4 linked regions of the Homo sapiens genome follow. The gene in region 1 interacts genetically with each later gene. Each region holds a gene or a part of one and is shown in the gene's direction. Other genes may lie near its edges.

What was found.
Region 2: changes in AOC1 (region 1) and NT5M together harm fitness less than expected from each alone (positive genetic interaction), as found in Homo sapiens cells (one large-scale study listed by BioGRID).
Region 3: changes in AOC1 (region 1) and PFKFB1 together harm fitness more than expected from each alone (negative genetic interaction), as found in Homo sapiens cells (one large-scale study listed by BioGRID).
Region 4: changes in AOC1 (region 1) and UMPS together harm fitness more than expected from each alone (negative genetic interaction), as found in Homo sapiens cells (one large-scale study listed by BioGRID).

What each region holds. Positions count from the first base shown.
Region 1 is NC_000007.14:150,851,030-150,858,760, forward strand, and holds the start of AOC1 (diamine oxidase [copper-containing] isoform 2 precursor), read left to right. Parts: upstream 1-1,487; 5' UTR 1,488-1,529; intron 1,530-3,074; exon of another isoform or gene 3,075-3,134; intron 3,135-5,425; 5' UTR 5,426-5,441; coding exon 5,442-7,011; intron 7,012-7,731. UniProt on the Homo sapiens protein: Catalyzes the oxidative deamination of primary amines to the corresponding aldehydes with the concomitant production of hydrogen peroxide and ammonia.
Region 2 is NC_000017.11:17,318,374-17,326,360, forward strand, and holds part of NT5M (5'(3')-deoxyribonucleotidase, mitochondrial isoform 4 precursor), read left to right. Parts: intron 1-4,811; coding exon 4,812-4,872; intron 4,873-7,813; coding exon of another isoform or gene 7,814-7,834; exon of another isoform or gene 7,835-7,987. UniProt on the Homo sapiens protein: Dephosphorylates specifically the 5' and 2'(3')-phosphates of uracil and thymine deoxyribonucleotides, and so protects mitochondrial DNA replication from excess dTTP. Has only marginal activity towards dIMP and dGMP.
Region 3 is NC_000023.11:54,989,202-54,997,698, reverse strand, and holds the start of PFKFB1 (6-phosphofructo-2-kinase/fructose-2,6-bisphosphatase 1), read left to right. Parts: upstream 1-3,510; 5' UTR 3,511-3,667; coding exon of another isoform or gene 3,668-3,691; coding exon 3,692-3,788; intron 3,789-6,978; exon of another isoform or gene 6,979-7,060; intron 7,061-8,497. UniProt on the Homo sapiens protein: Synthesis and degradation of fructose 2,6-bisphosphate.
Region 4 is NC_000003.12:124,733,452-124,739,408, forward strand, and holds part of UMPS (uridine 5'-monophosphate synthase), read left to right. Parts: intron 1-1,641; coding exon 1,642-1,795; intron 1,796-4,116; coding exon 4,117-4,788; exon of another isoform or gene 4,789-4,992; intron 4,993-5,957. UniProt on the Homo sapiens protein: Bifunctional enzyme catalyzing the last two steps of de novo pyrimidine biosynthesis, orotate phosphoribosyltransferase (OPRT), which converts orotate to orotidine-5'-monophosphate (OMP), and orotidine-5'-monophosphate decarboxylase (ODC), the terminal enzymatic reaction that decarboxylates OMP to uridine monophosphate (UMP).

The sequences.
Region 1 (7,731 bases):
TTTTCATTTTCCTGTGGGTGTCCTTTGAAGCATAAAAGTCTTTTAATACTGATGATGTCAATTTATCTATTTTTTTTTCTTTGGTTATTTGTGCTTTGAGGTCACATCCAAGAATTAGATGTAAAGTCAAGCAGATTTACTCCTATGTTTTCTTTTTAAGAGTTTTACAGTTTTAGCTCTTACATGTATGTCTTTGGTCCCTTTCGAGTCCGTTTCCGTGTGTGAAAGGGTCTAACTCCATCATGTGCATGTGGCCCCTTTCCCTTTAAATCTTTGCAAGTCTCTTTTCTCGATCCATCCTCACTCCATTAACTTTGTCGCAGTTTCCTTTGTGGAATGGAAACAGATTGTAGTCCTCAAAATCAGGTTGTTCCTGAAACTCTCTTCTAATCCAAATCCCCCCAATTCTCTGCGGAGTTGGTGAGCCCATAACTGAGAATACATAACTCACAGTCCTCTTGAACACTGAGGGTGAAAGACGTTAGCATTCATTGTCTTTGTATCAATCATCATTTTAACATGGAAGGCAAATCCCCTTCCTCAGAAACACCAAAGACCTTCTGGAATTGCAAGCAAGCTTCAAGTTGACTAAGTGTGTTCACCTTCCTTCATCTAGCTGCCAGTGCACACTGAAATGGCTTGCATTGCGGGCAGCAGGAAGGATGATGATGAGAAATACAAAACCCCTATAACCACAAAGCGGTGTGCAATCCCTGAGCAACCAAACCTTGGTAATGGGGGATGATGACCCCTTGGCACTCCTGAGCCACGAACTTTTCCTGACTCTATTCTTTCCTTTCCAACTAGGAGTTACCCCGGTCACCACGTTCGCCCTTCTCAACCTGACTAAGTGGGCGTTAGCACTGTCCGCCCACTGCATGGGCACTACCTGCCCCAGTGTCCTCTCCCCTCTCCGCTCTGTGCCATAGCCTTAGCTACCCTGGCCAGCTTTCTCCCAGCCAAGTCCTTCCTCCTTTCTGAATCTGGTCAGGGTCTCAAAGATCGTTAAAAAGCCGCCAAAGTTTGCAACTCGTCTTGAGTGGCTGCTCCTCCCAAACGGTTCTGCCTCTGGTGTCTTGTTCTAGGAGCGGTTGAATTCTCTGTTTTGCTGTGGGTGCCAGCCTCTATCAGCCCCTGCCCTGGTCCATCTGTCAGCTTCAGGTAAGACTACCGGCTAGGAAATGGCCCCTTGTCCTTATCTCTGCCTCTAAAATATGCCACCTAAATTAACAGATCGTGGCATTGCATGGCTCGTCACAGAGAAGCCAAGGCAAATTCTTGTGGAAGGCGGCACTTGTCTGGAAACAGACTCAGGACAAGTGTGCTGCACAGCCAGCTTCCTCAAACCCACTCTCGCCACTGTAGCTGCCCACAGAGGCACCTCCCAAGCCATAGGCCCCTCCTAGGCCAGCTCAGGCCTCACCTTGTCCCTCCCTGCAGGGCGGGGTCTGATTGACTTCAAGAAGGAGTCAGAGATCAGCTTAAGGGCAAAGGCTGGAAGCAGAGCGAACTGGGAGCAGAGCACACAGGTGCGTTCTGATGGGTATTCGGGAGAGTCAAGAAGGGGCTGACCTGGAGGACAGAAAAGCAGTGGAAGGAGGGCACAGAGTGAGGGGCAGAAGAAACAGGACACAGAGGGAGGAGGGCCAGGAAGTGAGGGCGGGAGCCCAGCACATCACAGAAGGTGCCCGGGTGCTTGGTGGCAGGCAACAGCCGGCCAGGGTGGAGTGGGGAAAGCTCAGAGAGGAGGGTGAGCAGGGAGAGGGCTTGCTTCCTGTTCCTGCCTGGAGGTCTCACCAGCCACCACCCCCACTGCCACTGCACATGGGGACAGAGGTTTGTCCTGGGGAAAGCAAAGGTCTCTTCCACATCTTTCTCCTTCCTGGAAAAGCAAAAAGAAACGTGGGTATAAGAGGTTGTAAAAAAGGAGACCCAGCCGTGAAAGGACATGGAGGTACCCTAAATGCACACTGCCAAGCAAAAGAAGCCAATCTGAAAAGGCTGCAGACTGTAAGATTCCAAATACAGGACGTTCTGGAAAAGGCAAAACTATGGAGACAATAAAAAGAGCAGTGATTGCTAGGGTTTCGGAGGAAGAGGTGGAGCACAGAAGATTTTGGGGGAGGTGGAACTATTCTGTGTGATATTCTAATGGTGGATCCATGTCATTGTCCGTTTGTCCAACCCATAGAATATGCAGCAGCAAGAGTGAGTCCTGATGTAAACTGTGGGCTCTGGGTGAGAGTGATGTGCAGGTTCATCAGCCACAAATGTATGGCTCTGGTGTGGATATTGATAGTGGGGAGGCTGCGTGTGTAGGGGCTGTGAGTATACAGAAACTCTCAGTACCTTTCGCTCAATTTTGCTATGAACCTAAAATTCCTCTTTAAAAGACTCCTATTTAAAAGACTTTAATAGACTTTATAAAGTTTGTTAAAAGACTTTTAATAGACTTTTTAAAGACTTTTAACAGACTTTATAAAGTCTATTAAGAAATCTATTAAAGTCTATTTTTAAAAGTCTATTAAAAAAAAAGTCTACTATAATCCCAGCACTTTGGGAGGCCAACGCAGGAGGATCACTTGAGCCCAGGAGTTCAAGACCAGCCTGGGCAACATAGTGAGATCCTGACTATATATATATATATATATATATATATATATATATATTTATTTATTTATTTATTTAAGTCTAATAAGAAGTCTATTTGGGGCCAGGCCTGGTGGCTCATGCCTGTAATCCCAGCACTTTGGGAGGCTGAGGCAGGTGGACCACTTGAGGTCAGGAATTCAAGACCAGCCTGACCAACACGGTGAAACACCATCTCTACTAAAAACAAAAAATTAGCCGGGCATGGTGGTGCACACCTGTAATCCCAACTATTCCAGAGGCTGAGGCAGGAGAATTGCTTGAACCTGGGAGGCAGAGGTAGCAGTGAGCCAAGATCGCATCACTGCACTCCAGCCTGGGCTACAGAGCAAGACTGTCTCAGGAAAAAGAAAAAATAGTCTATTTAAAGAAGAAAAAAAAGAGGCCTGGCCAATATTTAATAGGAGAACACAAGAACTCACCTCATATCCTTCCTGCTGGCTCTGGGTTCCGCCTGCAGCCCCTGCCTCACCTGCTCCCTCCAGGTAAGCAGGGCCTCCGAGAGCCCAAGATCATGTGGGTTCCAGGGTCTTCTGCCAGCACCAGAGGGCAAGACAAGGCAACTAGAGGGACATCCCCATGAGAGGCCATGACCATGGAGCAAAACGAGGGCAAGGGGAGAGCCCTCGGGGAGAGGGGCATGGGAAAGGGAGAGAAGGACATCTCAGATCAGCCTTTACCGTGGCCTCCAGGGCTAGAGAGCCCTCGGGTGATGGAACAGGCCCAGCCAACACCTTTCATTTGTCTATGAATCAAGAACTGCCCATCGTGTACAAATTAAATACAAAGTGCTAAGGGGACTAGTGGAGAAGTATGTTAGTTGGGGCCAAAAACAGCATTCCTCGGCAGTGCGGGGTTTCAGCTGACCTCAAAAGGTGGCAAAGGATGTGACACTGGCCCAGAGTCGGGTGGGAAGGGACAATGTGCAGCTGAGCTTCTCTGGAGGAAAAAAGCCACGGGAAAACAGGGCCTCTAGTTAACACATGGGTTGTGTTCCCAACGCTTGTGCTTCGGAAATGTGATGTGTAAATGCATTTTCCAAAAACAAAAGCAAGAAATGAAAAGCGCTCATGATGGTCAGGTTTCCTCAGTGGGTCACTCCACGATACACCCAAAGTGGAGCTGCTGCACCTCAGTTACACCTCACACCCTGTGCCGCCGACTTTCCAGGTGAAATCCTCGGGGCCTCCCTTGCAGGCAGCCTGGGCCCCCTGGGAAGAGGCTGGGCCAGGCAGAGGTCTGAGACAGGAGTGGATTAACCCTCTCTGCTACCTGTCTGTCTGCACAGGAGAACGAGTTTTCTCCAGGTTTACCCCCAGGGCTTCTGATTTAGGGAGCAAAAGGCAACTACCTATGAAAATATGAAAACAAGGATCTCTCAGAGTCCAACCCACTCATGCATCCACCTTATAAATCAAGTGTCTGTGCCTCAGGCACTGCTTGCAGGAAGTGAAAAGCACAGCTGAGACAGGGAGGAATCCTGAAGCGGGGCTCCCAGCTCAACCCAGAGCCTTGAGGAAGGGGGTGCAAGGTGGCAAAGGCAGTGCTTCTGTAGGGAAATTTCACGGTGACGGCAGCCTTCCAGGGAGGCCCACATCACCTAGGAGGACAAGTTAGGGTCTGGAGAAACTAAGGCTGGGAGACAGCTCCAGCCAGCATCTGTAGCAACAGCGCAACAGGCAAGAGTAACAGTCTCCCAGAGACTCCGCACACAGCACATGGGAAGACAGAGCTGTGGCCACCACGTCTCCCAGCCCTGCAGGAGGCTCACAGCTACAAGCACAGGATTTTACAGCTGCTTGGGGAATGGGGTTATGAGGTGAAGACCCTGACCCACCCTCCCTGAGAAAGGAAAAGGCATCTTCCTAAGATGAAACCCTCCCTGAGGTCCCCTCCTAGTAGCCTTGGGTGGACAAGAGAGGTGAATGGGGCACAAAGAAGGCTAGGCAGGACTGGGCACCTCTACCTCACCCCCAAAGCCATCAGTCTGCAGCCTAGTCACACCTGAATCACTCTACATTGCGTAAAACTTTAAATGGGCTGGTGTCGATAGCCTGTATTTAACAAGAAGAGCAGCTAACATTTCTCATGTATTTCCCATATGGCAGACATTGTTACAAACACTTTATATTTACTGTTTAATTGATTTCTCTCCACAACCCTAGGAGCTAAGCACTGTTGTCATTATTTTCATTTTAAAACTAAGAACATGAAGGCCCAGAGAGTTTAAGCAGCGTGCCCAAGGCCACACAGCAAGTCCTAGTGGCATGAGTCACTGGGACTTGACTCAGACAGCCTGACTCTAGAGCCTACCTTTGAATTTCTACACTAAATTTCAAAATCTGTCTACCTAAAAGGTATTTCGTTGTGTCAGAAATGTAGTTTTGCTGTTAATACAGGTGTCTTCTTCTCCAGGACACAAGAAGCACCTGGGGGCATGTGCAGGGGCCCAGCCTGGCCTCTGTGACTCACGGCACCCCTGGCTGAGATAATACACAAAAACAAGGGTGTTCCCCTGAGTAAGGAAGGCTGCAGGACTGAAGGACATTTACAGAGGAGTGAGGAGAGGGCAGAAATAAATGGATGGATGCACAGGCAGCGGCCCGACGGCGCTGGGGACTATGCATGGGGCCCCAGCTGCCCCAGGACAGCCTCCAGCTTGGGGCAGGGCAAGGGGAGGAAGCTCAGTCCATGGGAAAATTCCATGGCCCTAACCTGAGGGAAGCCCATCTCTGCCCATAAGACAACTAAGTTCATCTCCTCTATTGCATTCCAGAGCCGTGGAGCGAGAGATGCCGGCCCTGGGCTGGGCCGTGGCTGCCATCCTGATGCTGCAGACGGCCATGGCGGAGCCCTCCCCGGGGACTCTGCCCAGGAAGGCAGGGGTGTTTTCAGACCTAAGCAACCAAGAGCTGAAGGCAGTGCACAGCTTCCTCTGGTCCAAGAAGGAGCTGAGGCTGCAGCCCTCCAGTACCACCACCATGGCCAAGAACACCGTGTTTCTCATCGAGATGCTGCTGCCCAAGAAGTACCATGTGCTGAGGTTTCTGGATAAAGGTGAAAGGCATCCTGTGCGGGAAGCCCGTGCCGTCATCTTCTTTGGTGACCAGGAGCATCCCAATGTCACCGAGTTTGCTGTGGGGCCCCTGCCAGGGCCCTGCTACATGCGAGCACTGTCCCCCAGGCCTGGGTACCAGTCCTCCTGGGCATCGAGGCCCATCTCCACAGCAGAGTATGCCCTCCTCTACCACACCCTGCAGGAAGCCACCAAGCCCCTGCATCAGTTCTTCCTCAATACCACAGGCTTCTCATTCCAAGACTGCCATGACAGATGCCTGGCCTTCACCGATGTGGCCCCCCGGGGTGTGGCTTCTGGCCAGCGCCGCAGTTGGCTTATCATACAGCGCTATGTAGAAGGCTACTTTCTGCACCCCACTGGGCTGGAGCTCCTCGTGGATCATGGGAGCACAGATGCTGGGCACTGGGCCGTGGAGCAGGTGTGGTACAACGGGAAGTTCTATGGGAGCCCAGAGGAACTGGCTCGGAAGTATGCAGATGGAGAGGTGGACGTGGTGGTCCTGGAGGACCCGCTGCCTGGGGGCAAGGGGCATGACAGCACAGAGGAGCCGCCCCTCTTCTCCTCCCACAAGCCCCGCGGGGACTTCCCCAGCCCCATCCATGTGAGCGGCCCCCGCTTGGTCCAGCCCCACGGCCCTCGCTTCAGGCTGGAGGGCAACGCTGTGCTCTACGGCGGCTGGAGCTTTGCCTTCCGGCTGCGCTCCTCCTCCGGGCTGCAGGTCCTGAACGTGCACTTCGGCGGAGAGCGCATTGCCTATGAGGTCAGCGTGCAAGAGGCAGTGGCGCTGTATGGAGGACACACACCTGCAGGCATGCAGACCAAGTACCTCGATGTCGGCTGGGGCCTGGGCAGCGTCACTCATGAGTTAGCCCCCGGCATCGACTGCCCGGAGACCGCCACCTTCCTGGACACTTTCCACTACTATGATGCCGATGACCCGGTCCATTATCCCCGAGCCCTCTGCCTCTTTGAAATGCCCACAGGGGTGCCCCTTCGGCGGCACTTTAATTCCAACTTTAAAGGTGGCTTCAACTTCTATGCGGGGCTGAAGGGCCAGGTGCTGGTGCTGCGGACAACTTCAACTGTCTACAATTATGATTACATTTGGGACTTTATCTTCTACCCCAACGGGGTGATGGAGGCCAAGATGCATGCCACTGGCTACGTCCACGCCACCTTCTACACCCCCGAGGGGCTGCGCCACGGCACTCGCCTGCACACCCACCTGATTGGCAACATACACACTCACTTGGTGCACTACCGCGTAGACCTGGATGTGGCAGGTAGGACTCAAAGCGAGACTCTCCCGTTCAAACATCTGCATCCAGCCAATAACTTAAACTCCCAGGAGACGGCACTATAACTCCCTGGTGGTGGAAAGTTAGGAGCATTTGCCAAGCCTGCTTCTGTAAAACCTAAAGCTAGAAATTTGTGTGTCCCTGAAAAATGGTGAAAGCGAACAGTGCCGAGGGTTGCCCTGGATGCAACAGTGTGGACCCTGTCCTGACCCTGGGGCTGTGCATGGGGCAAGGGAGGGGACGGTGCCTATGAGGGTAAGAAATGTCACTGTCTAGCGCTTTGAGATGGAGTGTAGTATTGTCTGGGAATATTCAGGGTGTCTCCTGGATGATATCACCATAAAAGAATGGCATGGGTAGAATAACTAATGCTGCCAGACCCAACAAGGCCACCAGGACCACACGGGCGGCTCCTACCCCTCAGCCCCAGTCACCTCTCTGGACAGAGCCTCCCATGCCTGGAGAAAAATGGGTGCCCCTGCTCTAGGATTGCAGCCACAGCAGATGGGCATGAGCACAGCTCTTGAGAGGAACTTCCCAGAGTGGTAATGGAATCACCACAGCCGCCCAGGGCATCCCCCAACATCCCGGTTATTCAAGACAGTTGGCTGTTGGATGTGGTGGAGGATGGAGATCCTGGGGTAGAATGAGGAGGTTTCAGTTCTGGCAGCTTGATTCTCGTTCTCCTTCTCCCTGCATACCTCC
Region 2 (7,987 bases), on another chromosome or scaffold:
GGAGGCTGACCCAGGAGAATCACTTGAACTGGGGAAACGGGAGGTTGCAGTGAGTCTAGATCGTGCCACTGAACTCCAGCCTGGGTAACAAAGCGAGACTCTGTCTCAAAAAAAAAAAAAAAAAAAAAAAGTCTGGGCGCAGTGGCTCAAGTGTGTAATCCCAGCACTTTGGGAGGCTGAGGCGGGCGGATCATCTGAGGTCCGGAGTTTGAGACCAGCCTTACCAACATGGAGAAACTCTGTCTCTACTAAAAATACAAAATTAGCTGGACGTGGTGGCACATACCTGTAATCCCAGCTCCTCGGAAGGCTGAGGCAGGAGAATCCCTTGAACCTGGGGAGCGGAGGTTGCAGTGAGCCGAGATCACGCCATTGCACTCCAGCCTGGGCAACAAGAGCAGAACTCCGTCTCAAAAAAAAAAAAAAAAAAAAAAAAGGAATGACCTACCCATTCATGTGGCAACATGAATGAACCTTGAAAACATGATACTGAGTGAAAGAAGCCAGACACAGAAGGCCACGTATTGTAGGATTCTATTTATGTGAAATATTATGGGGCGGGCGTGGTGGCTCACCCCTGTAATCCCAGTGCTTTGGGAGGCCGAGGCACGTGGATCACCAGAGGTCAGGAGTTCGAGACCAGCCTGGGCAACATGGTGAAACCCCACCTCTACTAAAAATACAAAAATTAGCTGAGCGTGTTGGTGGGTGCCTGTAATCCCAGCTGCTTGCGGGGAGGCTGAGGTAGAAGAATTGCTTGAACCTGTGAGGCAGAGGTTGCAGTGAGCTGAGATTGAGCTACTGCACTCCAGCCTGGGCAAGAGTGAGACCTCGTCTTAGAAAAAAAAAAAAAAAAGTTTCTGAACAAGAGGCAAATCCTTAGAGCTAGGCAGCCCCTGGTTCCCCGGGCTGTGGGGAGGGGCTGTGGGAATGACTGCTTAATGGGAATGGGGCTTCTTTTTGGGGTGATGGAAGTGTCTTTAAATTCGATTGTGGTGATGGCTGTAAAACCCTGTAAATATACTAACATTTATTTAATTATACACTTAAAATAGGTGAATATTAGGATATATGAATTCTATCTCAGTAAAACTTTTAAGAAATGTTTACTCAAACATTTAAAAATTTAGGACAAACTATTGATACATTTATTTAACAATTAGGACACACTGTTGATACATTTATTTAACACTATGGGCGAATATCAGAATAGTTTTGCTGGATGAAAGAAGCCAGGCAAAACAGAGTATAGACTATACTTTCTTTTATGTAACATTCTAGAAAATACTATCCAATCTGTACTGATGGAAAGTAGATGGGTGGTTGCCTAGGGCCCCAGGGGCAGGGAGGGACGGGAGGGACAGCTGGGAGAGATAACAAAGGAGAACCTTTGAGGGTGGCAGGCGTGTTTATTTCTTGATTGTGGTGATCTGGGTTTCCCATGTGTGTCTTTTACTTTTTTTAAATATTTCTTTCTTTCTTTATTTTGAGACGGAGTCTCGCTCTGTCGTCAGGCTGGAGTGCAGTGGTGTGATCTCGGCTCACTGCAACCTCCGCCTTTTGGATTCAAGTGATTCTTCTGCCTCAGCCTCCCGAGTAGCTGGGACTACAGGTGCTCATCACCACGTCCGGCTATTTTTCTATTTTTAGTATAGACAGGGTTTCACCATGTTGACCAGGCTGGTCTTGAACTCCTGACCTCAGGTGATCTGCTTGCCTTGGCCACTGAAAGTGCTGGGATTACAGGCGTGAGCCACCACGCCCAGCCTCCCACGTATGTCTTTATGTTCAAATTTATTGAATTGTACCCTTTTAATATGTGCAGTTTATTGCATGTTGATTATTATATTATTTATACCTCTGTAAAGCTGTTTAAAAAGAGTGGGTCTGGATGCTGGGTGGAAATGGCTTGGAGGGGTGAGAACTGGAAGTTGAAGAGTCAGTGGAGGTGGTTGCAGCCGCTCAGTGGGAGACGACTCAGTTTGACTAGGGTGAGGTCTGTGGAGAGAGGTGGGTGGATGACGTGTGCTTTGGCGGGACCCATAAGACCTGGGGATGGATCTGATATTGGGGGTGGAATAAAGGTAGGAAAAATAGGTGATTTTTAGGTGTTTTGCTTGAGCAGAGCTCTGTCTTTATCATCTCTGTTTATCTAAAATAGACTAGGAACTGAGGGAAGACTCGGGGAGAGACACGCTTTAGGAGTAGGGGATCACGTTTCCCACGTTGGAAATCCTGTGTGAGGTGTGTGAGGCGTCCAGGTGGGTGGAAACTTGGTGCTGGGAGAGGTTGGGACGCATCAGCATGCACATGGTGTTTAAAGCAGGAGTGCAGGCTGAGAGCCCCCGAGGGCCTAGACCCAACCTGGAGCGGTCAGGAGAGGAGTAGACGGGGAGTCTGGGCTGGGTGGCTGGCGAGGATCAGGAGGCCAGGAGCGCAGGCTAGGACCCAGGATAGGGGAGCCCAGGAGAGCTGGCGTGGCCAGCTGGGCTGAGTACCTGTGGGTGAGGATGGTGAGATGGGCATTGGACAGAGGGACACTAGGGTCTTTGGTGACAAGGAGCAATTTCTGTGGAGTGAAGGGGCAGGCCCAGTCTAGAGTGGATTGAAGCAGGAGCAGGAGGCGAGGGAGTGGGGTCGGTAGGTGGAGGCAGCTTGTCGGGGACATTCTGCTTCGAAGGGAGCAGCTGGAATGTGGGGGTCAAGGCTGTGTGTGTATATATCTAAGGCGGGAGGTGCCAGCACACGTTTGAATGAGGAGTCATGGAGGAGGATAGCAAGCGGGCATTCGGGAGGTGCCAGCACGTGTTTGAATGAGGAGTCATGGAGAAGGATAGCAAGCGGGCATTCGGGAGGTGCCAGCATGCGTTTGAATGAGGTTCATGGAGGAGGATAGCAAGTGGGCATTTGGGAGGTTCCAGCACACGTTTGAATAAGGATTGTGGAGAAGGATAGCAAGCGGGTATTGCAGGGCATAGTGTCTGTGAAGGGCAGAGGGGGAGGATCCAGGGCACAGGTGGAGCCCAGGAGAAGGGAGTGGTGTGGCTTCCTCCTGTGCAGCAGGAAGGGAGGAAGAAGTGAGCCCGGCGGCAGGTGAGTCTCCAGATCCATGATGAGGTGGGCTTGGAGTCTCACCCACAAGAAGGTTGAGGAAATGGGGCGGGTGTGTCCTGGCTGTGCCCAGAGCACCAGAGAGGGCATTGAAGAGAGCTGCCAGGCAGCTGCAGGCCCTGGCTTGGTGTCAGGAATTGAAGGTGAAACAAGTCCAACTGATGATGTGAATTTTCTTCTCCGGCAACATTTAGTTGCTTGGGTGCAGGTGGGAGCAGTGGGATAGCTGGGCTCCTTCAGGGCCTGGCCAGACAGGCCTGGGTGGAGGATGAGAAGCACAAGCAGAGGATGGCAGCGAAGGCTGGGCCCCAGCTGGATGAAGGCAGGCCGCTAAGCTGGGACAAGGAGGGTGTCTCCACGAGGCTGAAGAGTTGAGTACAGAATGAGATAATGCATTTGCTGAAGCGTCGTGGGTGGTGGCCAGGGAGGCAAAGCCTGAGACGAGGTTTTGGGGGGAAGTGATTCCAAGCTCCGGGGGTGACACTAGGAGAGGTATTGGAGGTTGGGTGTTTGGAGGTGGAGAGGAAGTTGTTTGGAGGTGGGGAGGGTTAGGAACTGAGCGACAAGGTGTTGGATCTGTACCTATGCACACACATATATGTGGACATGTGTGTGTCAAGTCACTGAGGATGGTGATAGAGCAGGAATGGAGAGGATGGCGAGCCAGCGAGTGAGGTGCATAAGGGACAGTAACTGGCAATGGTAGGTGACAGTGAGTAGGAAGGGCTCTAGGGGTGTGCTGTCGAGTGTGGGCATTGGCATCAGGGATCTGGAAGGAGCAGTGGAGAAGGCAGACGCTGCCCTCACCTGCCATCTCTGAAGTCTGTGGGGGATGAGGAAGAGGCAGCTGTCACTCAGAGGCGAGTTGGGGAGGTGCTCCCTTCGTGTGAGGCCAGTTTTGGTTGGGGCAGGAGTGAGGATGCTGGGGAGAGGCTGAGTCTTTAGGAGAGGGGATTGCGTGGTTGGTGGAGGTAGTGCCAAGTATCAGGTAATGAGAGGGCACACCCTGTGCCCAGGGACCCGGGAGTCTCACCTCTGCCTGTTGAGGGACGCGTTTGCCAGAGAGAAAGCGTCAGCAAAGTGCCATCTTCCAGAGGCTCAGCAAGACGTGCAGGAGGCACAGGCTCCAGTAGCGAACGCCAGCCTCATGAGGGTGTTTGGGACCAGGTGGCTCCATTAGTGAGGGCTGGGGCCCTGTGGGCATGAGGGCGCAGGCACCTGGGAGGCCATTTGGGTCAGCTCTCCCGCGGAGCTACGACCTTGGGGATGTGGCGCTCCTCACGCGGAGCCAAGCCAAGCCAAGGCCAAGCCTGTGTTTCAGGGACTCGATCACTGCAGGGCTTAGCCTGGCATGGAGTAGGCTCCTTCTCTGTGTTCTCCAGGCCAGGGGACTTGCATGCCAGAATCCTTCTTCCTCATAGATTTCTTGACTTACCACTCTGCATTGCAGGAGGCCCTCCAGTCAGATGTCCAGCCCAGAGCTGGCTGCCTGTGGCTGGGTAGGGTCATGTGGCTGCCCAGGGCCATGGGATAGGCCGACACCTCTGGTGTGGATATAGTACAGGGGAGTGGGTCTCCCACAGCAGGGGAAGGGTTCAGACTCAGAGGGTCCAGCCCTGTGAAGGCAGGGCAGGTGGTGAAGGCCTCGGGGTGGTGAAGTCATGGGGCTGCAGGCTCAACCTCCTTTCTCTTGTTGACAGCACTGACGTCTTCATCTGCACAAGCCCCATCAAGATGTTCAAGTACTGTCCCTATGAGAAGGTAAGGCGTGCGTCTGCTCAGCTGAGCCCTTACCCCATGCATCACAGGTGAGGGGTACGGGGCTCAGCCTGCCTGTGGAAAGGGGATGGACCCTCACAGCACTCCCCCACCTCTGTGACAGCGGCTTTCTGCTCCCCAAGGACCTCTCCAGCCTGAGGCTCTAGATGGGGCCTCTTATGATGCAGGTTCTCCAGGAAGGGTGCCTGTCACTGTGTCAGGTTAGCCTGGCCCAGAGTAGGCCTTTGAAGGGTGAGAACCATGCCTGGGGAGGGCCTGAAGGCACGTGGATGCATTAACATGAAAAGTCTTAAAAAGGTGAGGTGGGTAAAGTTCATTTTGCTGTATACTCACTTTATTATCTTTATTGAAAAGAATTAGAGTTGCATGAAATTGAGACCTTTCTGGAAATTGGGAACTTGCAGTTGCCAAACCCAGAGGAAAGGTCTGTGGCCCTGGAGGAGAGCACTCATGCCGGAGGGGTCAGGGCCGGCCCTCCCTGGGGACGTTGGAGCAGCTCTTCCCGAGCTGAGGAAGGCAAGATCTTCAGTCCAGAGCCCCTCCTGCTCTGGGGGCGTCAAACCTTCAGGCATGAGTTCTTTCATGTTCTTCACATGACCTTTCCGCTCTGGATTCCCATTTTTTTTGAGACAGAGTTTTGCTCTTGTTGTTGCACAGGCTGGAGTGCAATGGCACGATCCTGGCTCACTGCCAAGATCACTGGGTTCAAGCAATTCTCCTGTCTCAGCCTCCTGAGTAGCTGGGATTACAAGTGCCTACCACCACATCCAGGTAATTTTTTTTGTATTTTTAGTAGAGACGGGGTTTTGCCATGTTGGCCAGGCTGGTCTCGAACTCCTGAGCTCAGGTGATGTGCCTGCCTCGGCCTCCCAACGTGCTGGGATTATAGGCGTGAGCCACCGTGCCTGGCCTGGATTCCATATTTAAATGAAATTCATGGTCAGGCGCGGTGGCTCACGCCTGTAATCCCAGAACTCTGGGAGGCCGATGCAGGTGGGTCACCTGAGGCTGGGAGTTCAAGACCAGCCTGGCCATCATGGTGAAACCCCATCTCTATTAAAAATACGAAAATCAGCTGGGTGTAGTGGTTCATGCCTGTAGTCCCAGCTACTTGGGAGGCTGAGGCATGAGAATTGCTTGAACCTGGGAGGTGGAGGTTGCAGTGAGCCAAGATCGTGCCACTGCACTCCAGCCTGGGTGACAGAGCGAGACTGTCCCCCCACAAAAAAACTTAATTTAAAAAAAAAAAAAGAAATTCACACATTCAGCCAACATAGCGTGCCCTCTGTGTGCTCAGTGGGAATCACACTTGCTGAACAGTTGCTCTGGCATTATGTGGGTGCTTGGTGCCCACTGTTTCATCATGTCCTCATGACACCTTGTTCCCTAGTTACCCTGACATCCCTCATGATTTTAGAGAGTGGGTCTTGTTCTGTCACCCAGGCTGGAGTGCAGTGGCCACTCACAGGTGCCATCCCAGCTCACTGCAGCCTCGAACTCCTGGGCTCAAGTGATCCTCCCACCTCAGCCTCTTGAGTAGCTGGGAACACAGCTGCGCACCACGCACCACCATGGCCGGCCTTCGCTGACCCCCTTTTAACACGCTAGGAGCACGAGTTCACTTATACTTAGGAGAGAGGAGTATCTTACCTGCAGCCAGTAAATGTGGATTCAGAGTGTGGGCCAGGCCCACTGTTTCAGGTCGAGCAGTGATCCCAAAGTGAGTCCTGAGACCAGAGTCAGCATCCCTTGGAGACTCCTTAGGAGTGGACATTTTTCAGCCCCACCCTACACCTTCTGAATCAGACACTCTGGGAGTAGCAATGTGGGTCTGACGAGCCCGCCAGGTGATTCTCATACACCCTCAAGTTTAAGGATTGCGGGACTGGAGTCACTATTTCAGCTGGAGTTTCACTGGGTGGCCATGGTGGTTGACCAGCAGTTGTGGGAGTGAGATGAACGACATGGCCTCATTCATCCGTTCCTGGGGATTTAGATACTGTCTTTGTGCCAGCTGTCCCACCTGCGTTGCCTCGGCCCGGGACTGCCCTCTGAGCTCCAGACACTCAGACCCGATGTATCTGTCCCTGGGGTGCTGGTTTCCTTGTGCATGGCAGTGCTGTCTGGTGGCCTCAGGTCGGAAATCAGGGGCCGTGCTGATGTCTTCCTCTAAGCCCTCACTTCCAGCCTGTTGGTGAGTCCCATGTCCCATGGGACCGATTTCGAAAACGTGCCTGGCACCTGTCTGCTTCTGTCTCTTCTCATTGCCAGCATCTTGGCATTTACTGCCAGTACAGCTGACAGGGCCTCCTAAACTGCCTGCTCCTTTCAGTTCCATGCAGGCTGACAAGGCCCTCACAGAGCAGATCATGGCAGCTCCTGACTTGAAACCTCTGAATAGTTTCCCTTTAAAAACCACATACACCCTCCTGAGCATGACCTGCAGGGCCTGCCTGCCTCTCCACCCACTGTGCCCCCCTCTCTGTGTGCTTCTCCAGCAGCTTTTGGCTTGGAATGTTCTCCTCCCACCCCTAGGTCTGGTGCCTTCTTGTCCACGAGGCCTCGGCCCAGAAGTCTCCCCACATTTCGTGACCATCATATTGAAGTGTATTCTTTCTCCATCTTGTTTTTTGGATGACACTTCCCACCACTTGAAATGGGTTTGTGTTTTCGTCTGTGGCTTGTTCTTGGTCCATCTCCTGACTGGGCTGGGACCTGTGCAGGCTGGGCTCTCACCCTCCTGCCCACTGTCAAGCCCAGCACCCAGCGCAGGGTGGCACACTGGGAGGACTCAGCGTTTGTTGTTAAATGAGTAGATTCATTTGTCCAACAGAGAGTTATTAAACACCGGCGAGTACAGTGCTTGCCATTCATTTGACACCTTTGATACGCCAGGCAATGTCCCTTTATTCTCACTTTTGAGGTTTACAACAGCTGCCTGTGAAACAAGAAAACTCTTCTGATTTGACAGATGAAGAAACTGAGGCTCAGAGGGATGAGGCAGCTCATTTACCAGGTCTGACGCTTGGCCAGCCAGTGAGGCCTGCTCCGGGTCTGCCTGTCAAGAGCCTGTGCCCACCGCCAGTGTGTTCCCCTG
Region 3 (8,497 bases), on another chromosome or scaffold:
GTCACAGAAGGCCTGACACTCATATACATGCACCTAGCTTGTAAGTGTGTGGTCGATCTCCCCTCACACCTTCACTCTCCACAAATGCATTCATACCCAAACAGTCTGAGAGCTACCAATAGGGAGACCCCATTCGTGACTTTATTATCCATCAGCACTGTCATATGCTGCTTTACATGGTATTCTCCCCCGATACACATGCCCTATACTTTGGGAGGGGTATGGGGTCAGGATCTGGGGGCCTTGGGAAATCACATTGTAATCTTTTCTTCCCTAGAGATAGCCCCATTTTAGAATTTTAGACCAAGAGCTGCAGGTCAGAGCTTGATCTTGAATGAGAATCTGGTACTGACTGAACCCTTTCTCTGCCACGAGTTCATTGGCCCTTTTCAGAGAGGACTTCATTCTTTTATCTGTTTCTGTCCCATTCAAGGTAGAGAAACCTTTCTGGATGCCACCTCCTACCTCAGACAAATTAGTTCTCCCATCCAATTCCCTGCACAGCTCTCTGTTATAATATTTACCTTGTTGAACTAGGATTAGTTGTCCACAAGTTCATCTCATCTAGGGCAGAGAGATGTAGACTGCACAAACACAATAAGCAAGTGTCTTCTCTGTCCTCTGTGCCAGGGCCTGAGTTGGACACTGGAAACACAAATTACAGATCACTGAGATCTAGTCTCCATACTCAAGGAGTTCACAGTCTAGTGGGGAAGCAGACCAGGAAAATACTGGTGGATACTTGCTCAGATAGGAGCATGTGGGCAATATAAGAACCAAATACAAGGCCTGTCCCAAGGATACAGGGGTCACTTCCCAGAGGAAGTGAACATCAAACCAGACCTTGAAAAGTGGATCAGATTTTGTTGGGAATAGAAGGAGGAAAATGGCATTTCAGGCTGAGCAAAGGCCAAAAAACAGGAAAATACACCATGTATTTTGGGGCCCAGTGAGTCAGCCAGTGCAGTTTAAGGATGATCTAAGGAGAGATATGGCTGGACAGATAGGCTGAAGCTTGATTGAAAAGTCTTGAGTGCCAAGCTGAGGTCTTTCCATAAAGCTTGTTTTGGTCTCCTGCTTCTGGGATCAGAATTGGTAACAGTAGTGAGGAATCTCATAGCTAATTCCAGGCAATTTTAAGTTAGGCTTTCAAGCCTGGACCCCAGGTTTACCCTTTAAGACTTTGTCAAAAGCCTGCCAGCTTCTTATCTCAGATTTCCTGCTGCTAAAATTATCCTTCTGCCTGTTGGCAGGGCCATGAGGACAAAATTGTAAACATAAAAGAGATGTTCATGTGACCAGCTAGATTACCTTGAACATGCCACTTCCCCTCCCCAGACCTCAGTTTCCCTGTAAGGCTAACAAGGATGTTTGCAAGGATCAAATAAGATAAGGAATATGTTGTTGCTTTGTGGGCAATGGAAAACATACAGGGAAAGGGTTATAATTAAGATTATTAATATTAACAGATTTATACCAGTTAGGAAATTTATTAGAATTAAAAGAGTTGTATCTCTTACAAAGTCTAGTTCTGAGACTCTAGAGGTTCTGAGCTAACCTGTAAGACCACATTCTTAGATCAGGCTTGTTTGATTAATTAAAGAAAAGCCCTGGCCTGGGAGAAATTAGGTCCCTAGTGTTCTATTCCTGACTTGGCCACTGATTTACTACATGACCTTAGGAAAATATTTCTAGACCTCAGTTTTCTTACCTGAGAGGGTGAGATGAAATGATCTTGCAAGTCTTTACACAAAATCAAAAGAGTAAAACCAAATTCATCCTTCTAATTGATTTGCAGGAGCTCTTTGTGTATTATAAATGTTAACCCTTTCCCATAATATTGTAAGTTTCCTTAACTGAGAGTTTTCTGTATGGTCAGCATTATATTAGAAGTTTCAGATTAGTCAAGGAGGTGTCTGATCATTTACCTCCCAAAGGGAGTAACAGTGTTAGATAATATATTTTTAACATTTCACAGATTGCTTTACATTTTTTAACACATTGAATCTTCAACAGTCCTAAGGAGGGTAGGTACTCCTATCATTCCCATGTTCCAGATAAGAAAACTGAAGCACTGAAAAGTTTAGTCTTCTGCTCATTGCCTCATAGCCAACAAGGGGCAGAGGTAGGATTCCACTCAAGAAATATTGCTCCAGAGCCTATTGCTCTTAACCATCATGATCTGCTATCTCAGTTGATTCATTTAGATAGGTGGGCTCTGGAATGTATTAAAAATTTGGTATGATTTATACACAACAACTGGAGGGAATCTGACCCTTGTGTAGACTACGGCTTGCAAATGTATTTTAGGGAACTTCTTAAAAGGCAAAGTGGAACTGAGAGCATTTGAGGGCAGGGATTGGAAATTTCTGTCCCCAAGAGATTGCCCTTGTGTAGCCCAGCTCAGTGGAAGAAAGTTGAGCTTCTTCATAGCCAATCGTTGGAGGTTCATTGGGGGTGGGAAGGTTGCAAAAGAGTGAAGTAAGAGGACACTTGTGCATCTTCGAGGCAAGCTGTGCAGTTCTATGAGTTATACACATAAAAGCCTCAAAACAACGGGTCAGGGGAGCGGGAGAGGGCAGGTGAGAGTGAGTCATCTGGGCTGGATGACTCTGGCCTATGGACTTGTCCTACTTTGAGGCCATTGCTCTCTGTTCCCTGCTGCAGCCTCCACCCTCCTAAATCTCCATCCTAATAGCTTGGCATGAGGAACTTTAGTGAAATTTTCTATCAGTTCATGATGCCAGTGTCATTCTCCTTAGGGCATCTGATGGTGGCTAACAGCCATGTGGGCAGAGCTTACCATTCCCCCACCTCCAGCCCCAGGCAATGGCTGCACTCTTCCAAAGGTGTCAGTTTACTCCTATTTATTTAGCCCTTGGCTGGAGAGAGTAGAAAGATGATCGGATAGTGCCCATCTCTTCAAGAGTGCTCCAGGCAGCACATTTCAGGTGGGAGAGGCCCTGTGGCAAGGAAGGCAGCAGAATCCAGAGAAGACAAGGGATGCAATGCCATTTTGGGTCGGGGAAGCAGAGAAGTAGTGGACCTTCCATGTCCAGTTTGGGCCTCTAATTGCCAGCTCAAAACACTGCATTCCCCAGTAGGGACTTTGTGTTTGTGTTTTTGTCCTTGGGAACCTTGCATTTCTGATGTGAATCTTGGTTTCTGGGTTGGAGCTTGACATTCTACTTGGGCCCATTTTTTTATTTCAAAGCTGGGAAAGCCGCTGAGACCTACCTCCATCACCTTTGCCTCTATACCCCACACAGGCTGTAAGCACATGATCTTTGGTCTTTTATTTGCATACTCTATTAGTCTTGTCTTCATTGGAGGGAAGTGACTGGTCAGACCTGGGCTGTGTTGCTGGCTGCCTTCCTTGTTGGGCTCCAACTTACCTCCTATGTACACAGCCCTTGGAGTTCAGAGGCCTCTCCTGACCTCTGCCCAACCTCTCGCCCTCTGCACCCAATACCCCACTAGTACATACAGGAGCAGAGGCAGGCTAGGACCAGAGGAAAGAAGAGAGGGGACTGAAGACAGACTTTGAGAGGGCTCAGAAACCCAGTACACCCCCTGTCCCAGCCCTGTCCACCTGCTGCTGTGGCCACAGCGAGAGAAAAGACAGCTAGTAAGATAGGAAGTGAGGCCAGGTACCTTGTGGGCAGTGATGTCATTCGGTGCGACTCCTAAGATGTCTCCAGAGATGGGAGAGCTCACCCAAACCAGGTTGCAGAAGATCTGGATTCCACACAGCAGCGGCAGCAGCAGGCTGCAACGGAGAAGGGGCTGTAAGTGGGGTTTGCTTCCGTGGGTTTAAAGGTGGTGGTGGTAGAGTGGGTGTAGAAGAGCAAAGGATGCACCTCCCCTTGCCATCCACTCCTACCTCAACCTAAAAGTTGGAATAGATGAACAACTGGATGAAATAGAGGCTAGTGTCAAAAACGTGAGGAAAAGAATGAGAGAGAAGACAGGCGGAAAGAGAGATGAAGACAAAGGAGGATTAGGTTAAGACCATCTTAATCAGAGGGATCTTTAGGAACTTTTCCTTTCTTATGCAGAGCTTGTTTGGAATGCTTCTTGTTTGGAATTTAAGATTTCTAGTTTAGGACTGTTCAGTGATAGCCTAGTATGTTTCATTTTGGTGACTTCTGTGAAGTGTCTGGGAGTTGGTCTTGCCTGACTGATAGTGCCTGGGTGAAATAAGGTGATGGCTCCTGGCATCATCTTTCAGGGGACAGGTGCTGGGTACACAACAGTGCCATGTCACTGGTCAGTATTGCTCCTCTCCTTTCTCAGGCCTTTTCTGAGTCTATACCTGCCTAGGTTGGGAAACACTTAATGTCCTGTCTCCAGTGTTGCCTTCCTGGCACATATGGACTTCCTTGCTGCTCTGGAAATTTGAGAGAGGCAGTCTCTCAGGGCCAGCCCACTGGTGTGGTGCTCACTTTGGAAATTTAAGAAAGATCAAGGGCAAAACAAAACCTGTACATATTTAAAACAAAATCTGGAGTGTACCATTTCCCATAGATAACAGGCGACAGTGGTGGACCAAGGTGCATCCAGCCCAGGGATTGTGGCCTGAGTGGCCATAAGGTGGGTTAAGATAAGGCAGCTGTGGACTGTGGGACTCAGACACCCCAAAGGCCAGCTAACCAAGTTTCCAGTCTGCTAATGCTAGAGGAGGCCCAGGCTTAGGGATATTGGGGGTAGCAGTAGTTGCTTAGAGGATCTAGGAGCATATAGGATGTTAAATATAGTTATAATATACAGGAGGTAGGGTGTGGGTGGAGGAAGAGAGAGAAAAAAGACTAGGCTCCTATTCTCTCTCTTTCTTATCTCCACCAGCTCTCTCACTCACTCATCTGGAGATCTAGGAGCCTGGAGACTGAGAGGTACCCTCGCCCAGCCAGCCACTCTTGGCCTTTTCCAAGGGGCTGTTTAGTTGACAAACAAGCAAGCCATTCTCTGCATACACGGGTCCTCCAGAGCTAGAATGCTTATAGTCCTGGGAACTGTGTCTTTCAAGTTGGAGAGATAATATACATAAATCACCTAATATAGTCTCTATCAAATAGAAGGTGAAAAATAAATATGTGCTTACTTTTGTTTGGAGTGTCACTTTCCTCAGCTATAAAACAGGATTAATGCCTGCAACCCAGTGTTATTGGGAGTAATTCACTGATTCAGAGGTTCTGGATCCAGACTGCCTAGGTTTGAGTTCCAGCTCTATCTCCCCCTGTGTCTGTGACCTTGGACAACTCTCTTAACCTCTCTTGGCTTCTGTTTCCTCACTTGTAAAAGGAAGTTAATAACAGTGTAGTTGTGAAGATTAAATGAACTGGAGCATGGGATGTGCTTAGAAGAGTGTCCAGCACATAGTACATACGCAGTAATTGTTAATTATCCTAATTATTATTGTTCTTGTTATATAAACAAGAAAGCGGGTGTGTGGTCTTATTTACCATCATATCCTCAACATCAGGCCCTGATCCTGGCTCATAGTAGATGCTCAGTAAATGGTCACTCTGTGCTACTTCCACTCTACCACTCACCATAGCCAAGAATGGGGCTCTGTGTGTACAAGACAGTCACTCATTAATATTTGACTAAATTTTATCAGACCATAGATGCAAAAAACTTAGATAGTGGTTGCCAAGTCTGGACAATGTCTGGTTCACTTCTTGCTAGGGAGGCCAGTCTATTGGTCCCTGTAAGGTCTGAATCACCTTTTTCTTGGAGCATCCTCTCTAGCAGACACACAGTTACTTAATGTTATTTTGAAGATTAAATACATTAACATGTAAAGTACTTGAACAGCTGTGCATATTCTTTTCTCATCCAACATTATGTTTATGCGAACCACCCATTTTATCGTTGCAAGCAGTTGTAGTTTGTTTATTCCCCTTGTGAATATCCCACAGTTTATCCATCTTACTATTGTTGAGCATTTGGTTAGTTTCTAATTTTTGATTATGAAGAATAATCCAATGGGCATTCTTGTACCTTTATCCTGGTAGAGCAAGTCCCTTCATCTTGTCCTTCTTATGGAGTGTCTTGGCTATTCTTGGTCCAATGCCCTTCTCCATAAATTTTGGAATCAGCTTTCCAAGTTACACACATATACAAACACACACACACACACACACACACACACACACAGAGAGAGAGAGAGGGAGAGAGAGAGAGAGAACTTTTGGGATTTTGATGGAAATTACATTCAATCTGTAAATCAGTCAATTTGAGGAGAGTTGCCATCTTTGTGACATTGAGTCTTCCCTAAACACGGTATATCACTCCATATATTCAGACTTTTTCATGTTGAGTGAAGTTTTATAATTTAATCTATAAAAGGTTTGCATGCCATTGTAAGATTTTTTTGGCTTATTTTTTGTTGCTATCTTAAACAGTACCTTTTTAGAAAATTAAATTTTATAGCAGTATGTTGCTAATGTATACAACTGTATTTGTTTTTCATGTAATGAATTTGTAACTAGCAAACCTGCTAAACTTTCTTATGAGTTTTGATAATTTGTATGTAAATGACAGCTTTCATTTTCCCCACAACCCTCATTTTTATCTTTCTTATATTATTACACTGCTAAGACCTCCCGCCTTTAATATACACACACGAGATGTGCAGTACACGTTGAAAAGAAATGTTAATAATGTATATTCTTATGCTGATCCCGATTTTAAGTTTCACCATTGAGCAAATTTGCTGTAGTTTTTTTGGTAGATATCATTTAATAGGTTAAAGACGTTCCTGTTTATTCTGAGTTTGCCAATACAATTTTTAAAAGATGAATGAATATTGAATTTTATTAAACATGTTTTCTGTATTCACTGAAATGACATTAATTTTCTATTTTAACCCATTAATGTGGTACAATACATTAGAGTTTTTCTTGTGTTGAAATAATCTTGCAGTCCTGGGATAAATAAAAACTTCTGAATTTCTTTCACTAATTTTTTGTTTAGGATTTTAGCATTTTGCTCAGGAAAGAGATTGGCCTGTGATTTTTCCAAGAGTGTCAAGATTACACTAACCTCATAAAATCAGGTGGGAACTATTTCCTTTCATTCTGTCCTCTGACAGAGGTTGTCTGCAGAACTAGCCATTCCTCAAATATTTTACCTGGCAGCATTTCCAGGTAAAATATCTGGACCTGGTGTCTCCTTTAACATTTTAACTGATACAATCTCTTTTATCAGTTATAGAGTCCTTTCAGTTTGCTATTTCCACTAAAGTTAGCTTTCTTAAGCTTTCCTAAGTTATGGTTTTCTATGAATTTTTCTACTTCACATAGTTTTCAAATTTATTTTGTGTAAAGTTCTTATCTTTGTATCTTTTTTATCTCTGTTGCATTTGTAGTTATAGCTTCTCTTTCATTATAATATTATTTATTTGCACCTTTTTTCTCTTGATCAATCTTGCTATAAGTTTGACACTTTTATAATTCTAAAATAATCAACTTTTGACTTTTTGATCCTTTTTTATCTTTATTTTCTATTTAACTATTTTTTCATCATTATTCTGTTTCTCCTACTTTCTTTGGATTTATTCTGTTGTTCTTTTTTAACTCATAGAGTTGCCTGCTGCTCAGCTCATTCATTTTCAGACTTTCTTCTTTTCTAATTTAAGTGTCCAATGAGATAATTGGCCTACTAAACAGGGCTGATATTCCACAGATTCACAATCGTATGGCCATATGAATTTTCAGAATATTTCTAGTCCATTTTATAAATAGGCACTCTCCCAGGCTTTTTTAGTCTCTCCAACACTTACCCAGTTACCCTGGCCACCTCAATTCCTTTCCCAGGATAGCCAGGACCTACTGATTATCATCTAGCAACTAAAGGATTAATGCCTACCACAGCAGGAGGCCTCCAGTACTTGGTGCCAGCCCTTGGACCAGCTTCTGTTTTGATAGATCAGTGCTCTTGTCATTTCTATTTTAATTCCATTCTGGTCAGAGAACAAACTTTGTATTATTTCAGTTCTTTGAAATCTGTTGAGACTTGCTTTATGGACCAACTTATGGACAATCTGGTAAATGTTCCAAGAGCACTTGAAAAGAATGTGCGTTTTACAGTTGTGTTTAGTGTACTATATACCTCGATTAAGTTGTGTTTGTTAATCTGGCTCAAATGTTCTATATTCTTCTGGGGTTTTGGCTGCCTGTTGATATGGAAAATTTGTTAATGTTTCCTTGTAATTCTGTCAATCTTGAAAGTTCGTAGTTACAAACAAATTTAGAATTGCTATATCTTCCTTGTGAATTGAATATTTTATCACCATGTAAGGAAATTATTAACTCTGGTAATACCTGGTAATTTGGTATCATTGATGTTTTTGCCCTATAATCAATCTTTTTTCTCATATTAATATACCTACATTAGCTTTATTTAGCTTAATATTTGCCTGGTATGTGTTTTCCTACATTTAAAAAATTGTTTTTGATAGAGATATAATTCACATACCATAAAATTCACCATT
Region 4 (5,957 bases), on another chromosome or scaffold:
CCCACAGGTTTAAATCAGATTGGGGTATTTGGTCCTTGTGGGATTCACAAGATGGATTACTGACTGCCTTGCTGTGAATGGCACAACTCACACCTTAATGTAGCTTCGCATACAGCTTGGGAAGAACATAGGAGGCAAAGTTGCTCACTGCAGTAATGTCCCTGACTGCTGCGGCCTCTACTATGTTTTGCACGACGAGCTTCTTAATGGTCTTTTCCTTGGGCATGCATCGGACATAGTATGTGCCACTACTGGCCACAGCCCTTTTTGGCACGATCATTGTTCCTTTCTTTTCTTTGTCATCTTGGAAGTAAGGACCTGAGAGAGCTACAGAAGAATTCTTGACATCTAGAGACTTATGGTCATGGGAAATTTTTTTTTAATTACCATTTTAAATTTCAGTTTACATACATATAGACAAGTATGACAGAGGGATCAGTAAAAGCTTTTCAAGTATAATCATATATTACTTTAGAATAAAATTCTGTGGACACAGTGGAGTGAAAATATGAGTTGGAAAAAGATGTAAAAAATTTTAAACTTTTCATAGTCCAGCAATTTCACGTTTTGTTTTTTTAAATGGAGATGGTGGATATCCAGTCACTAGCATTTGTATTCCAAGTTTATTCCTTAAAAAGAGTGATAAAACAGTTCTAAGATAATATGTTAATATTTTTAGTACTAGAAATTACATTCTCTGCAACTTAAAATAGTCATAGTTTTTTTTTGTTTGTTTTTTTACTCTTTAGAAGTACTGGTGTAAACCTATGATCTAGTTCACAAAGCAACTCAGTGACTGTTTGCTTTTTTAAAAAAAAAATGAGGTGGTCTTGGGTGGGAATATGTATCCTAACATTAAAATATGATGATTTATGTGGAAAAGGAGATTATAAAATAGCAATTCACACAATAGTCTGTATTTATGAAACTTCCTAATTGAAGGCTTCTTTCAGGATATATAACTAAAAGATGATAGGTTTAGATACTCAGCCTAATGGGTTACTGAGGAAACCAGGAAGTCGGGATCGTCCTTAGTCTTTGGGGTCAACATCATGAGCTTCCCCAGCACATCTCAGGTTGCCTTCAGAACAGATTCTGAGTCTGGTTGAATAGATTCATTCTTGTGTTTTTAGATTTATATTTGTGTACTGGGTTTATGGAGAGGGTAATAAAAAGGCATTTGTTTTTTTTTCTCCAATCAAGTTTGAGACTTACCCCCACTAGTTTATTACTGTCTTTTCTGTTACGTTGTTACATGTTTATACACTATTTAAAATAGTTACAATAGGCTGGGCGCAGTGGCTCACGCCTGTAATCCCAGCACTTTGGGAGGCCGAGGCAGGTGGATCACAAGGCCAAGAGTTTGAGGCCAGCCTGACCAACATAGTGAAACCCCATCTCTACTAAAAATACAAAAAAATTAGCTGGGTGTAGTGGTGCGCGCCTGTAATCTCAGCTCCTTGGGAGGCTGGGGCAGGAGAATCACTTGAACCTGGGAGGCAGAGGTTGCAGTGAGCCGAGATCGCACCACTGCATTCCAGCCTGGGCAACAGGGCGAGACTCCATCTCAAAAAATAAAAAATATAAAATAAAATAAAATAGTTACAATAAAACATTGTTTATGTGTTCATTTTCTTACAGGTTGCAGATATTTTATTCCAAACTGCCCAAAATGCAGGCATCAGTTTTGACACCGTGTGTGGAGTGCCTTATACAGCTTTGCCATTGGCTACAGTTATCTGTTCAACCAATCAAATTCCAATGCTTATTAGAAGGAAAGAAACAAAGGATTATGGTAAAATAAAAGTAACATAAAGCATGAAGTTAATTAATCTGTAACATCATACTCTTAGAATTTTTCCGCTTCTGTGCACTAATGTTTTACCAGTCATCTTGAGTTCTTTAAGTTGTTACTGCTTGTAGAATTTATAATTGTTACTATAAGTCACCTTCCTTTTTTTAGACTTGGGGTGAAATGCTTTGTATTGATTAGGAAATGAAAAGTGCTTTTTTTGGTACTGTATCTATGAAACTCCAACATTTTTTTTTTTTACCAGCCCTTCCCTCATCAGCAAAATGTTGTAACAGCACATACTTTCCCAGTATGTTTGTATTTAAACTTCATGAAAAGTAATCCATGGATAAAATTACTCTCATAAAGCAGTGTAAACACCTCAGAGAGATATTTTTGTGGGTTCATGGCAATAGATTATCAGGTGACTTGCTTTAAAACCCGAAAATTTGTCCAGGCACCATGGCTCACGCCTGTAATCCCAGCACTTTTGGAGGCCGAGGTAGGCGGATCACTTGAGGTCAGGAGTTCAAGACCAGCCTGACCAACGTGGTAAAACTCCGTCTCTACTAAAAATACAAAAATTAGCTGGGCGTGGTGGTATGCACCTGTAGTCCCAGCTACTGGAGAGGCTGAGGCAGGAGATGCGCTTGAACCCAGGAGGTGGAGGTTGCAATGAGCTGAGATTGCGCCACTGCACTCCAGCCTGGGCGACAAAGTGAGACCCTATTTCAAACAAAAAAAACCCTGAAAATTGGCCAGGCACAGTGGCTCACACTTGTAATCCCAGCACTTTGGGAGGGCAAGGTGGGAGGATAGCTTGAGCCCAGGAGTTTGAGACCAGCTTTGGCAACGTTTGTCTCTACAAAAATAAAAAAAGAATACAAAATTAGCTGAGTGTCACAGTTACATGGGAGGCTGAGGCAGGAGGATGCCTTGAGCCCAGGAGCTGAAGGTTGCAGTGAGCTATGATTATGCCACTGCACTGCACCCTGGGTGACAGAGCAAGACTGTCAAAAAATAAATAAATAAAACCTGAAAAGCAATCTTAATGATAGTAAGGAATTAATGGGCTTTTTTGTTTATGTTGGTTTATTAGTGTTTTGTTACTTTTTTTAAAACAAATCCTTCTTCTACAGATGCATTCTGAAAATTTTTATGATTAAAAAAAAGAAACATATTAGTTGAGTTTTTGTGGCGTAAGGGCAGTGTTAGTTTTTCTGTTTTTGTTTTTTGTTTTTTTGAGACAAGGTCTCACTCTGTTGCCCAGGCTGGTCTTGAACTCCTGGTCTCAAGCCATCCTCCTGCCTCATCCTCCCAAAGTGCTGGGATTACAGGTGTGAGCCACTGCACCCAGCTGAGACTTTCTGAGCTAAAAAAAAACTGTATGAATCCCTACCCATAAGAAAACTCTTATTTCTATTATTTTATGTTTTAAAAACTGTTTCTATGAAATTATGCATTTTTAAATATACTATAAATACTTGCAGTCTTGTGTTCTAGCTTAAGCTGATTCAGTTAAACTTACCAGTTGTTCAAGAAGCGGAAAGGATTTGATGAGTCTAAAGTCTACAGCCCAAGTTATTTACGTTTTGTAGATTATCTGAAAATAGTCTAGTGGGATTTGGGTAGAGAAGTATATATTTAATCACATTGCATTATATAATTCTTTAGATTGTAGTAATGGGTCTAAATGATTGCTGAATATTTTTCCTTCTGAATTTGTGTCTTCAAAAAGTCAATTATTTGGCTGATCTTGAATAGTGAACTTAAAATACTTTGATGGAAAAAGGAATTATTTCATTCATGATACTGGATTATTCTGTTTCATAACTTTCCTTGATCTAGGTGATCTTGCTGTAAGAAACTCTGTATTTAGGCTGGACGTGGTGGCTCACACCTATAATCCTAGCATTTTGGGAGGCTGAGGCGGGAGGATCACTTGAGCTCAGGAGTTCAAGACCAGCCTAGACAACATAGTGAGACCTCATCTCTATGATAAAACAGATTTTTTTAAAGTAAAAAAAAAACCTCTCTATTTGAAAATTTGATCATAAAACACATTAAGCAGTGTTTATAATGTGAAATAATTTACTTGATTTACTATAAATATACTGTATGTGTAACTGGCAAGTTTGGTATACAGAGTTGGCTTTATACATAAATATACTGTATGTGCAACTAGCAAGTTTGGTATACAGAATTGGTATACACATATACTGTATGTGTAACTGGCAAGTTTTGTATACAGAGTGTGTGTACGTATATACGCACATATACATACATATTTAAATTTGGAATCAGCAAAATTTTTTCTTTTCTAGGAACTAAGCGTCTTGTAGAAGGAACTATTAATCCAGGAGAAACCTGTTTAATCATTGAAGATGTTGTCACCAGTGGATCTAGTGTTTTGGAAACTGTTGAGGTTCTTCAGAAGGAGGGCTTGAAGGTCACTGATGCCATAGTGCTGTTGGACAGAGAGCAGGGAGGCAAGGACAAGTTGCAGGCGCACGGGATCCGCCTCCACTCAGTGTGTACATTGTCCAAAATGCTGGAGATTCTCGAGCAGCAGAAAAAAGTTGATGCTGAGACAGTTGGGAGAGTGAAGAGGTTTATTCAGGAGAATGTCTTTGTGGCAGCGAATCATAATGGTTCTCCCCTTTCTATAAAGGAAGCACCCAAAGAACTCAGCTTCGGTGCACGTGCAGAGCTGCCCAGGATCCACCCAGTTGCATCGAAGCTTCTCAGGCTTATGCAAAAGAAGGAGACCAATCTGTGTCTATCTGCTGATGTTTCACTGGCCAGAGAGCTGTTGCAGCTAGCAGATGCTTTAGGACCTAGTATCTGCATGCTGAAGACTCATGTAGATATTTTGAATGATTTTACTCTGGATGTGATGAAGGAGTTGATAACTCTGGCAAAATGCCATGAGTTCTTGATATTTGAAGACCGGAAGTTTGCAGATATAGGAAACACAGTGAAAAAGCAGTATGAAGGTAAGTGTATTATTCAGGAATCTGCAAGAATCAGAAATCCAGCTTAAACTGAAGAAGAAAAAGGAAATGCTCATGTCATTGAAAGTCCATTCATAGAGCAGGCTGTCAAGCGTGGTTGGATCCAGGAGCTCAAGTGATATCTTCATGACTTGCTTTCTCTCCATCTCTCAGCTCTGCTTTCTTCTCTGTTGACTTCTTTCTCAGGTAGGCATACTCTGCATGCTCACCCCAAACCAATCACTCTAGCTTGGGATGTAGAATACCTTCATTAACTAGCCTGGGCAATTTGCTCTGCAACTGTGAGGTTGTTAACTCTGTATGACCTTCTTGAAATAAGAACCAGTCAGGGATAATTTCCTTAAAGAAAATGGATGTGCTAGTACCAGAAGAAGGGTATGTGCCTGGGCAAGCAAATTTGACAGATGTCCTTGGCAGAATATGATGTTTTGAATGAAAATTCCACATAAAGGAAACAATGAAAAAGAAATATAAAATGGTAAGATTTATTTGTAGCAGAAAAAGTTCTATTGATAAACATTATTTAAAGATTTTTCTTTTATCAAATAGGGACTCAAAGTAGTGCATGTGTTGGTTGAGAAAAATGCTTAGTTCTACTGCCTATTCTATGCAAATTTCTGTCTATGTTTTTACAACTGTGTGATCAGACTATATTTAATGCATTTTTCACTTAACCTGGTAACAGATATTTGGTTGTGTCATATAACATTTTTTGTAGGCATCTTTGAGGTAACTTTTCTTTAATGTATGCATGTTCATAAGCTATTTCTTTAAAATAGATTTGTCTTTAAGTGACTTCTTCATGTGCTTAAGATGTCCTGCCCTCATCACATTGCCTAGCTTACTTTAGCTGATTGACTGACATAAGAGTTTTATACAAACTTTCTTCAGCTCTGCATAGAGTTTTTTCGAAAATCAGGCTTGTTACTGTCCGCTTTTAAAAGGAATATAGTTGCCTATTGAAATTAGATAGCTAAGGAGATCTAAGGAACACGTAGAAATATTGAGCGATAGTAAAGCTGCTGAGAGACCCCTGCAGAGTGAAAACTTGTCATCTTCAAGAAGAATTTTATTTTTATTATTATTTTTTTTGAGATGGGGTCTTGCTCTGTCGCCCAGGCTGGAGTGCAGTGGTGCAATCTTGACTCACT